Homo sapiens: one gene and its partners. The protein of the gene in region 3 interacts with the protein of the main gene of each other region in a pairwise test. Each region holds a gene or a part of one and is shown on either strand. Other genes may lie near its edges. The genes, in order: SH3GL2, UPF2 and TYMS.

Region 1 (3,731 bases), on a different chromosome or scaffold from region 3:
GGGCTCAGAGGATTGAGGCTGTAGTGAGCTGTGATCGCCCCATTATACCCCAGCCTGGACGACAGTTTCAAAAGGCACATGGAACATACTGAGCCTTATGTATTAAGAAAAGACTTATTCAGCAAACTAGACTTAAAATTCATATGTGCATATGTATGTTGTGTATGTACATATGGACATATGCACATATACATACACTTACAAGCTCACAAATAGATTAATATACAGACACACAATTAATTAATTATAGGCACCAGTAATAGCAAAACTGCTAGCTTTTTAACCAAAAACCCACTTTTACATCCTGGGCACATAGCTAGGCTACACTTGCCTTCTTCCATTTCTCTTAGGTGTACCACAGAGGGGCCATGTTACAAGTTCCAGCCAACCAAACATAAACAGAAGGAACTATTCCTTCTCTTCATTTTCAGCTGTTGTATAACAAATTACCACAAATTTAGCAGCTTAAAACAATACCCATTTATTATCTTACAATTCTATAAATTAGAAGTCTGGGCCTGCTTAAGTGAGCTCCCTGTTGAGGGCCTCACAAGGCCAAAATGAAGGCGTTGGCTAGACTGGGCTCTTATCTGGAAGCTTGGGGGAAGAATTCCCTTCCTCTCAGATTCTTCAAGGCTGTGGGTCTAAGATCCCTATTTTCCCTGCTGATGGTCACCAAAGAGCTGATTTCTGCTCCTAGAGGCTGCCTGCATTACTACTCACATGGCCCCTCCCTCTTTAAACCAACAACAGCATGTCCAGTCCTGCTCATACTTCCAATCTCTCTGATTTTTCCTTCCACTACCAGCCAGAGAAAATATCCTGCTTTTAAAGGGCTCATGAGATTAGATTAAGTCCAATCATATAATCTCCCTTTTGTCTTACAAAGTTAAAAGTCTCAGGAATAACATCTTTTCAAATTGAACATTGCACCCACACTCAAAGGGGAGGAGAGTACACAAGAGCAAGAGTCACCAACAATCGTAGCATTCTGTCTACCATATTCCTCTTCCAGGCCTGGCTTATGAACATCTCCCATGCTTGTTCAAACATATTCTTTCCCTTTGGCAACCTTGAAAACCATATGTTACAGATGGCAGAACCGATCCAGGGTCATCCTGAGTCCCTGAAGCAAATAACGGGAAATATAAATGAAAAAGACTTTGAGCAACAAAGTACCATTAAGACTTCTTGGTTAAGCCAAAGTATCAGGCCCTCTTGTTAAGTTCAGAGTAACACAACCAAGTCTACTGGATGAAAATTAGGTCTAAAAAAGAATTTCCATCATAGAAATTGGCAAATGAAACTCACAAGAAAACACATCAGAAGCCTATTAAGTTGAAGTTTTTCTGGTTTTTTTTTTTTGGTTTTTGTTTTTTTGAGACAGTGACTTGCTCTACTGCTCAGGCTGGAGTGCAGTGGTGCAATCTGGCTCACTGCAACCTCTGCCTCCCAGGTTCAAGCAACTCTCCCAGGTTCAAGCTTCAGCCTCCCGAGTAGCTGGGACTACAGGCGTAGGCCACCATGCCTGGCTAATTTTTGTAGTTTTAGTAGAGAAGCGGCTTCACCATGTTGTCCAGGCTGGTCTTGAACCCCTGGCCTCAGGTGACCCGCCCACCTCGGCCTCCCAAAGTGCGGGGATTACAGGCATGAGCTACCGCACTTGGCCAGAAGCCTACTAAGTTTATGAAGAAATTTCATTACTCAAATCTACCATGGATAGTGAAAACCCTATGACTGTAAAACAATCCCCAAATTTAAATAAACAGGAAGTTGACTGAAAAGTTATGCCGTTCCCAAAGAGGGCAGATTTCCTCTAACCCTCCTTAGACCTGGCCAAATATATATAAGAAAGAACAAGAGTTCTTCCCAGATTGCAGAGCCAGATTGTAAAACCAAGGAACTTCCTCTACTGGCAGGCAGGGGATTTCACAATGCCCCCTGCAGGATGCCATCACTGTTATGGACAATAACTGTCCTGACTCCCCTTCTCTCCTTTCCTCACTGGAGTCATTCACTGTGGACATTATTTCCTGTACTTTTTGTTTTGTTTTGTTTTGTTTTTGAGACAGTCTCGCTCTGTCGCCCAGGCTGGAGTGCAACGGTGTGATCTTGGCTCACTGTAGCCTCCGCCTCCCAGGTGCAAGCAATTCTCCTGCCTCAGCCTCCTGAGTAGCCAGAAATACAGCTGTGCATCACCAAGCCTGGCTAATTTTCCCATTTTTAGTAGAGACGAGGTTTTGCCATGTTGGCCAAGCTGGTCTCAAACTCCTCAAGTGATCTGCCTGCCTCGACCTCCCAAAGTGCTGGGATTGCAGGCATGAGCCACCGCACCCAGCCGATTTCCTGTACGTTTAAAAGCATAGGCTATCTGCTTTATGTTTCTTTCAAGCATTATTCTGTGATACGGTTTGGCTGTGTCCCCACCCAAATCTCATCTTAAACTGTAGTTCCCACAATCCCCATGTGTCATGGGAGGGACCTGGTGGGAGGTAATTGAATCATAGGGGTGGTTACCGCCACACTGTTCTCGTGATAGTGAGTGAATTCTCACGAGAGCTGACGGTTTTATAAGGGGCTTTTACCCCACTTTGCTCTGTACTTCTCCTTGCTGCCGTCATGTGAAGGACATTTTTGATCCCCCTTCTGCCATGACTGTAAGTTTCCTGAGCCCTCCCTAGCCATGCAGAACTGTGAGTCAATTACACCTCTTTCCTTTATAAATTACCCAGTCTCGGGTATGCCTTTATTAGCAACATGAGAACAGACTAATACATAGCTTGATATTGAGATGTTTCTCAGCATTATAAAACTGCTTCCATTAGTATCTATGGGGAAAGGTTAGTTTGAATTATAAAAAAGATATTTCTATTTTTTATATATATCATAATTCAAAAAAAGGCAGAAAACACTGCCTAGAGGTCCTTCAGTGTCCTAAGTATCCAAGTAAACCTCCATGGAGCTGTGGGTTCTTCACGAGTATTACAGACAGCTTCTCCATATTCATTACTACTATATACAATTTGACCCAGGGGATGGCGGAGGGAGATTAGGGTAGAGCAACTACAACATCATATTTGGCATTTAGAAGTTGTACTAAATGTAAAACCTTTATAAATAGTGAAATTATTTCCTGAAGCATTTGTCATCAGCTAATGATTTAGTATAGCATGAAAATATTTTGTTGGTAGAATGCAAAAGACTTGGCAGGGTCTCACAATCATGGCATTTTAATAAGTATAGTTATAGCTCTCTTTAGTCTTTATTATCCATCGGATACCATGTACATCATTCTTAAGCTTTTAGGCTCCTTAAGTGATTATGGAAACAATAAATTCTAAACCAAAAACACTGAGAAGGGTTGTACTACAAAGTTTCAAAACTTCACATGTTGTCTCCTGCTGCCTCTTGCTGCCTCAACATTCATTCCCACATACGCTAACTGTGAACACCCCACCCAGGTAACCAGGTGCACAAGTTTGATAAGGTTGGCCCCTACCACAAGTTCACCTCTCTGTCTTCTTCTGACCACGACCTACCAATGCACCAATGCAACGCACTGTGAACTGCACTGAGCTGTGAACTGCACTGAGATCACTAGTAAAGGCACTTGCCCACAGTCCTTGCTCTCTCTGCTCCCACCTGTTTCCCACCTGCTTAGCTGATCCTGCTCTCAGAGCTGTCACCTCCACCCCACGTGTCCCCCCTCCTATCCTCCTGTACAGTGATTG
Region 2 (3,500 bases), on a different chromosome or scaffold from region 3:
TTGCTCTATACTTTTCTACTGTAGTCCTGGAGCCCCCAAATGTATCTTCTTCCAACGTGGGATGTTCAATTCAGAGACACTGAAACTCAAATCAAGTTTAAAGCTCAAGTTCATTTCCCCCACACCATTACCATCACAACCCGTTTCTTCTCTGGCTCAATCATCTCCTTCACGCTCTCCTTGGTGTAACTGCTCAGTAGTCAAGTGAACCATCTCATTTCTTGACTGCCATTCTCAAGAGAAGATTAACCCTCGCGAGATTTCCATTACAAAAGGCCTTTTCCGCCTTGTCTGGAAGCGTCGGCTTGTTCCGGTGTTGGCAGAGGCTGGTGTTTCTGCCTCCTGGCCCCAGCCTGTCCCAGGTTTAGATTCGCAACTCTCTAGACCGACCTGCTGAGATGTGTCCACTGCTCTCATTCAATTGCTGGAGGACTCCACTAACCACAACATCAGATACAGGACCTAATGAAATGACACGTGCTGCTGGATCAACGTCTCCTAAAGGAACAAACAGGGTCACATCAGAGAGCTTACTGCCACAGGACAAAGTCCAGCAAGATGGCGTCTGCAACGCTACCCACCACCACCAAGTCACTCCCCCAAGTTACAGGTGGCCCTGGCATCTGCGGGTTCCACATCCATGGACCAAAAATATTCGGGGGAAAAAAACCCAAACAATAAAAAATAACATAAATATTAAAAACAATACAGTATATCAACTATCTCCATAGCATCTACACTTTATTAGGTATTACAAGTAATGTAGAGATGATGTAAAGTACACGGGAGGATGTGCATATGTTATACATAAATGCTACACCATTTTTTACCAGGGACTTGAATGTCTGTGCATTTTGGTGTCTGAGGGGATCCAGGAAGCAACCCCCTGTGGATACCGAGGACAACTGTAGTGCTTTTTTGAGAGCATTCATGCTCTCTACTGAGCTACAACTTAACCAGAGCCATTGGAGCAATGGCTGGAGGAGTGGCTCTGTTCTCTTCTACAACTTATTCTTAAGGTGCTAAGAATTCACAGTTTGTGTTATGGTTCAGTTGTGTATCCCCAAAATTCACATGTTAACACTGAACTGCAGGACCTCAGAATGTGACCGTATTTGGAAACAAGGTTGCTGTAGACGTAATTACTTCAGATAAGGCCATACTGGAGCAGGGTGGAGCCCTAATCCCATATGACTGCATCTCTATAAAAAGGGAAATTTGCACACAGACACACACAGGGGGAAAAGGCCACGTGAAGACAAAGGCGGAGACCAGGGTGAGGTATGACAAGGTATGGAAGCCAAAGACTGCCGGCACCCCCAGCAGTAGAAGGCAGGCCTGGAGCAGTCTTCCTCCAGGCCTCAGAAGGAACCAGCCCCGCTGACTCCCTGACCTCAGGTTTCCTGCCGGCGGCCTCCAGTGCTGCGAGACAACAGACATCTGTCGTTTAAGCTACTAGGGCTGTAATATTTTGTCATGGCAGCCCAAGCAGATGAACAGTTTGTTTCTTACAGAGCAAGCTACCTTAGCAAGAAACTTTCAAAGCGTTAAGATGCAAATATGGAAAAGTATATCCTCAGCTGGATAAGATCCGTAACTCTTCCAGAAATGAACTGATGGAAAGAACACAAGTATTCCCTGAGGGAATGAAAGAGAAGATTCAAGCATCTCTCCTGAAGTCAAGAAAAGGCAGCTATCTAACCTAGAATACTTTAAATAAATGCAGTAAATGACAGGAAAAAAATGTTCAAAATCTTTGCTAAGTAAGGTATAGTTATATCACTAGTTATAGTGTAAGGTGTCATTTGACTGGTTTATAAGCAAACAATCATTCTGAGTGACTCAAAAATCTATCAGCTCAAAAACTGTTTATTAATACAATATACACTTTGGATTAAATGCAATTCTACAATGGACTCTATTGTATAACAAAACTATCACTAATTTAACCTTACATAAAGATATATAAAAAAAAAATCTGATGAAAAAATGCAGACTCTACTTAAGATAGGTTTACAAGAGTTCAATATCAGCCTGGGCAACATAGTGAGACCTCGACTCCACTAAAAATAAAAAAAATTAGCCATTTGTAGTGGTGTGTGCCTATAGTCCCAGATACTGAGAGGCTGAGGCAGGACTGCTTGAGCCCAGGAGGTCGAGGCTGCGGTGACCTGTGATCACGCCACTGTACTCCAGCCTGGGTGACAGAGCAAGAACCTGTCTCAAAAACAAAATAAAACAACAACAAAATCATTTTTAAAAAGATGGGTTTAAAAGTCAGATAGTATACTCCTATGCCGCTAAGTGTAGGCCACACACCAGCAGTTTTGACATCACTGGAGATCTTGTTTAAAAGTAACCAGAGCTTGTTGTGCTCACTTCAGCAGCACATATACTAAAAATTGTAGTGATACAGAGAAGACTAGCATGGCCCTGTGCAAGGATGACATGCAGGTGGGGTGCAGTGGCTCACGCCTGTACCCTCAGCACTTTGGGAGGCTAACGCAGGCAGATCACTTGAGGTCAGGAGTTTTGGAGACCAGCCTGGCCAACATGGTGAGACCTCATCTCTACTAAAAATACAAAAATTTGGCTGGGCGCGGTGGCTCATGCCTGTAATCCCAGCACTTTGGGAGGCCGAGGAGGGTGGATCATGAGGTCAGGAGTTCAAGACCAGCCTGGCCAAGATGGTGAAACCCCGTCTCTACTAGAAATACAAAAATTAGCCAGGTGTGGTGGCAGGTGCCTGTAATCCCAGCTACTCGGGAGGCTGAGGCAGAGAATTGCTTGAACCCGGGAGGCGGAGGTTGCAGTGAGCAGAGATCACGCCACTGCACTCCGATATAGCGAGACCCCATCTCAAAAAAAAAAAAAAAAAAATTAGCTGGGCGTGGTGGCACATGCCTGTAATCACAGCTACTTGGGAGGCTGAGGCACAAGAATTGCTTGAACTCGGGAGGCAGAGGTTGCAGTGAGCCGAGATCCCGGCACTGCACTCCAGCCTGGGCAACAGAACAAGACTCCATCTCAAAAAACAACAAAAAAGAATGACACACAAATTCGTGAAGCTTTCCACAATAATTAAAAAATAATAATAAAAGAAACTAATCAGAACTTGCTTTTTAGTAAGAGTCTAGAGAGTTAATACGTATTTTAAAGTTTGAGAAGCATTGAAATAACCCATATGAATTAGTACCATCTAAGCCATGTAAGTATTAACACTTGCCAAAAATGTTAAGTTTCACAGATTTTCAATACTAGTGTATTAGAAAAACAACCTTGTTCTGCAATACAGAAAACCCTACATAATAGTTTTACTTACAGCACTGCTGCCGTTTCAACTCATTGTAAGCAAATGCCTCTTATTTGTTAAAGGGCTGAAATTTTAATTTATGTCCTTATTTCAAGGATCTCCTGGTTAGAAAATATACAAATACAAATTAAAATCTGGGAGTCCATCAAAAGCTACAGGAGAAAAATAGTTTATGCCGGGCGTGGTG
Region 3 (3,444 bases):
AGAGGAAGGTTTCAAAGTAAAAGCTGGTTCATTTCTTACTTACACATATCAAATTTAAAAGCTAATCAGAGACTAAACTCTGCAATTTGTTTTCCCATATTAAAGAACTGAAGAGCTCAGTGTGGTAGGCTGGCAAGTCACCCTTCCCGAGACAGCCCACCTTCAGGCCCGTGATGTGCGCAATCATGTACGTGAGCAGGGCGTAGCTGGCGATGTTGAAAGGCACACCGAGGCCCATGTCTCCCGATCTCTGGTACAGCTGGCAGGACAGCTCACTGTTCACCACATAGAACTGGCAGAGGGCATGGCATGGAGGCAGCGCCATCAGAGGAAGATCTGAGGAACCAGCAGAGGAAGATAAGGAGGGATGGTGGTTTGAAAGACCACAGCTAAAGGCAAAGTAAAACAGGAGAGAAACAGAAGCCAACTCATATGGTGGAGACCAGGAGAGAGAGCCACTGGGCTGCAGTGATGTCCATAACAGCCTCTGCAGCGATGGCACGGAGCTGAGGGAGACTATCCATCGGTGCAAGGTTTCTGCAGGTGTCCATTTACGGCTGAAGCAATGCTCTTCCATCAGAGCTGAAGGGATCTGGGCTACCTCGTGGCACCAGATTACAAATACAGCAGGAATAATTCTGTTTGCCACAGGAAACTGGTGCTTCTGGTACACCCTCCTATATTAAAAGTCTCTATTACATGGCCAGGCACAGTGGCTCATGCCTGAAATCCCAACACTGGGACGCCAGGGTGGGCAGATCACTTGAGGCCAACTTGAGTTCGAGACTAGCCTGGCCAACATAGTGAAACCCCGTCTCTGCTAAAAATACAAAAATTCGCGCGCCTGTGGTCCCAGCTCTGGGGCTGAGGAATGGGAACTCACTTGAACCTGGGAGATGGAGGTTGCCGTGAGCGGAGATCACACCACTGCACTCCAGCCTGGGCAACAGGGTGAGACTGTGTCTCAAAAAAAAAAAAAAAATAAGTCTCTATTACAGATGCAAGTATTTCACTCTAAGTACTTATGATATCCTGATAGAGTTTTGTTGTTGTTGTTGTTTTTAAATATTCAGGGTCTCACTCTGTTGCCCAGGCTGGAGTGCAATGGCGTGATCATGACTCACTACAGCCTCAAATTCCTGGGTTCAAATGATCCTCTCGCCTTGGCCTCTGGAGTTGTTGGAATTACAGGTGTGAGCCACCACACCTGGCTCTACACCCTGGTAGAGTTGAATTTTACAATATAATTGTTAAAAATGTTAGTGAGGTGGCAGCGAGCTGGAACTTCATCTGCTTCCATTTAAAATGTTAACATCTTACATGTAGTTTCTAGGCAATTTAAAACCCTTTTTGGTGTAAGAATGAGTATAAATACACAAATTAAGATCATCTGGTTGGGAGGCTGAGGCAGGCAGATCATCTGAGGTCAGGAGTTCAAGACCAGCCTGACCAACATGGTGAAACCCCGTCTCTACTAAAAATACAAAATTAGCCGGGCATGGTGGCACATGCCTGTAATCCCAGCTACTTGGGAGGCTGAGGCAGGAGAATCACTCGAACCCAGGAGGCAGAGGTTACAGTGAGCCAAGATCACGCCGTTGCATTCCAGCCTGGGCAACAGAGCAAAACTCTGTCTCAAAAAAAAAAAAAAAAAAAAAAAATCCTCTGGGCCCAACCTCATGATCTGAAGGTGAAAGTGCAGCAAAATGTGACTTGCCCAACGTCACACAATCAACCATGTGGCTGGGGGAAGTTCCCAGGGTCCTGCCTCCCTCAGGTGCCTCTGCACAAAACCAGATTGCTTCCCTCTAAGAGTATGGTTAGTATAAATGAAGACGACGGGGTTCTTTCAACCTCTTGGATTCCAAGCGCACATGATGATTCTTCTGTCGTCAGGGTTGGTTTTGATGGTGTCAATCACTCTTTGCAGTTGGTCAACTCCCTGTCCTGAATAATCTGTAGAATTGTCAAAAAGAGAGGACAGGTACATACATTAATCACACATGTCATGAGATGGCCTTAGAGGTCATCTATTACAGTCTCTTACCCAGGGTCCCCCCTTGACCCATGGCTACAAGACATCTGGTGCATCCTGCAAAGTTTGCAGATCTCGGTGGGTTGAGTTCAAGGCCCTGTCTGACTCCTGGCTCTGTCCTCTGGAGCCCTAACAAAGTCTTTTTCCTCTTCTACACAGTCCTTTGAATATTTGGTCTGTCATGGAGTCACCTCCTCCTGTTCCCCCCATAGCTAACCCTTTCCAATCTCAACAATCTTAATTTCTTCCAGTGCTCCTCGCAAACTTAGGCTCTAAACCCATCAGCGATTCTTGTCACAATTTCACTGACAAAATCTACTTTATCCTTGTCTCACAGAGAGTGTTGTATCTTATGTAGAATATAGTATTCCATATACTTTCCAACTAACAGAGGACCATGGATTCCTTTCTATCACCTCAGCAGCATGTTTCCAACACTTCCACCTAAAATTACTTTAGAGTTTAGCAGCTCAACACACGACTGACTTGGAAACATCAGGAAACCTCTGTAATGATTACACCACCTTGTACTTTGCTCCCATTTCTGGTCTCTGGATTTTAATCCCTTTCCTTCCTTCTGAGATGGAACTGGAAGCTGAGAAGTGATTTGTTAACTGAAGTGCAGAGCTTCATAATCTCCTTTGGTTAAATTTCTACCTATTAGTGTCAGACTATATTCTGGTTCAGTAGTTCTCAAAATTTTGGGAGGAAAGTCCTCTCATGGTCACTGTTCCGAAAAAGGTAACATCAAAGATTTTAAAAAGATGAACCTTGGTAGTGTAGTTCTGTAACTTGATTGTAGTGGTTACAAGAGTCTACACGTGCTAAAATTGCAAATACACACATACACAAGTGCACGTAAAACTAGCAAAATCTGACAACTCTGAGGAATGCACCAATGTGAATGTATACAGGATGTTACCCAAGATATTATCACTGGGGGAAACTGGGTAGTGTGTCCAGGGAAACTTTCTGTGCATTAAAAAAAAAAAAAAAAAAATTCCTGTGAATCTGTAAAACAAAATTAAAAACAAAAAGGGACAAACTTTCCTACTAAAATCCAACAGCTAAGCATTCATACCACTGTAAACTAAAACCATAATTTTATTAGGCCTTTTAAGCGACAAGAAATAATTGAATACTAGGCAGGATTTAAAGCATCATTAAGCCCGGGGACTGGCCTCACATCCTACGGACACCCTACAACTGAGGTGCAGGCAACGACCTGCAGAACACTTACCTGCACAAGTAACTTGGCCCACGCAGCAGCTTTTTTCATTGTGATAAAGTACACATAATATTAAACTTGCCATTTTTGTGTGCAATTCAGAAGCATTAAGCACGTTCCTGATGTTAGGCAACCATCACCATCACCCATCTCCATCACCATCACCATCACCATCACCATC

Evidence for each region.
Region 1: the proteins of TYMS (region 3) and SH3GL2 interact in a two-hybrid assay, tested with the Homo sapiens proteins (one large-scale study listed by BioGRID and IntAct).
Region 2: the proteins of TYMS (region 3) and UPF2 interact in a two-hybrid assay, tested with the Homo sapiens proteins (one large-scale study listed by BioGRID).

What each region holds. Positions count from the first base shown.
Region 1 is NC_000009.12:17,585,534-17,589,264, reverse strand, and holds part of SH3GL2 (endophilin-A1), read right to left. Parts: intron 1-3,731. UniProt on the Homo sapiens protein: Implicated in synaptic vesicle endocytosis. May recruit other proteins to membranes with high curvature. Required for BDNF-dependent dendrite outgrowth.
Region 2 is NC_000010.11:11,920,810-11,924,309, forward strand, and holds part of UPF2 (regulator of nonsense transcripts 2), read right to left. Parts: intron 499-3,500; coding exon 489-498; 3' UTR 1-488. UniProt on the Homo sapiens protein: Involved in nonsense-mediated decay (NMD) of mRNAs containing premature stop codons by associating with the nuclear exon junction complex (EJC).
Region 3 is NC_000018.10:667,584-671,027, reverse strand, and holds part of TYMS (thymidylate synthase), read right to left. Parts: exon of another isoform or gene 3,349-3,444; coding exon of another isoform or gene 3,276-3,348; intron 1,957-3,275; coding exon 1,855-1,956; intron 711-1,854; exon of another isoform or gene 337-710; coding exon 161-336; exon of another isoform or gene 1-160. UniProt on the Homo sapiens protein: Catalyzes the reductive methylation of 2'-deoxyuridine 5'-monophosphate (dUMP) to thymidine 5'-monophosphate (dTMP), using the cosubstrate, 5,10- methylenetetrahydrofolate (CH2H4folate) as a 1-carbon donor and reductant and contributes to the de novo mitochondrial thymidylate biosynthesis pathway.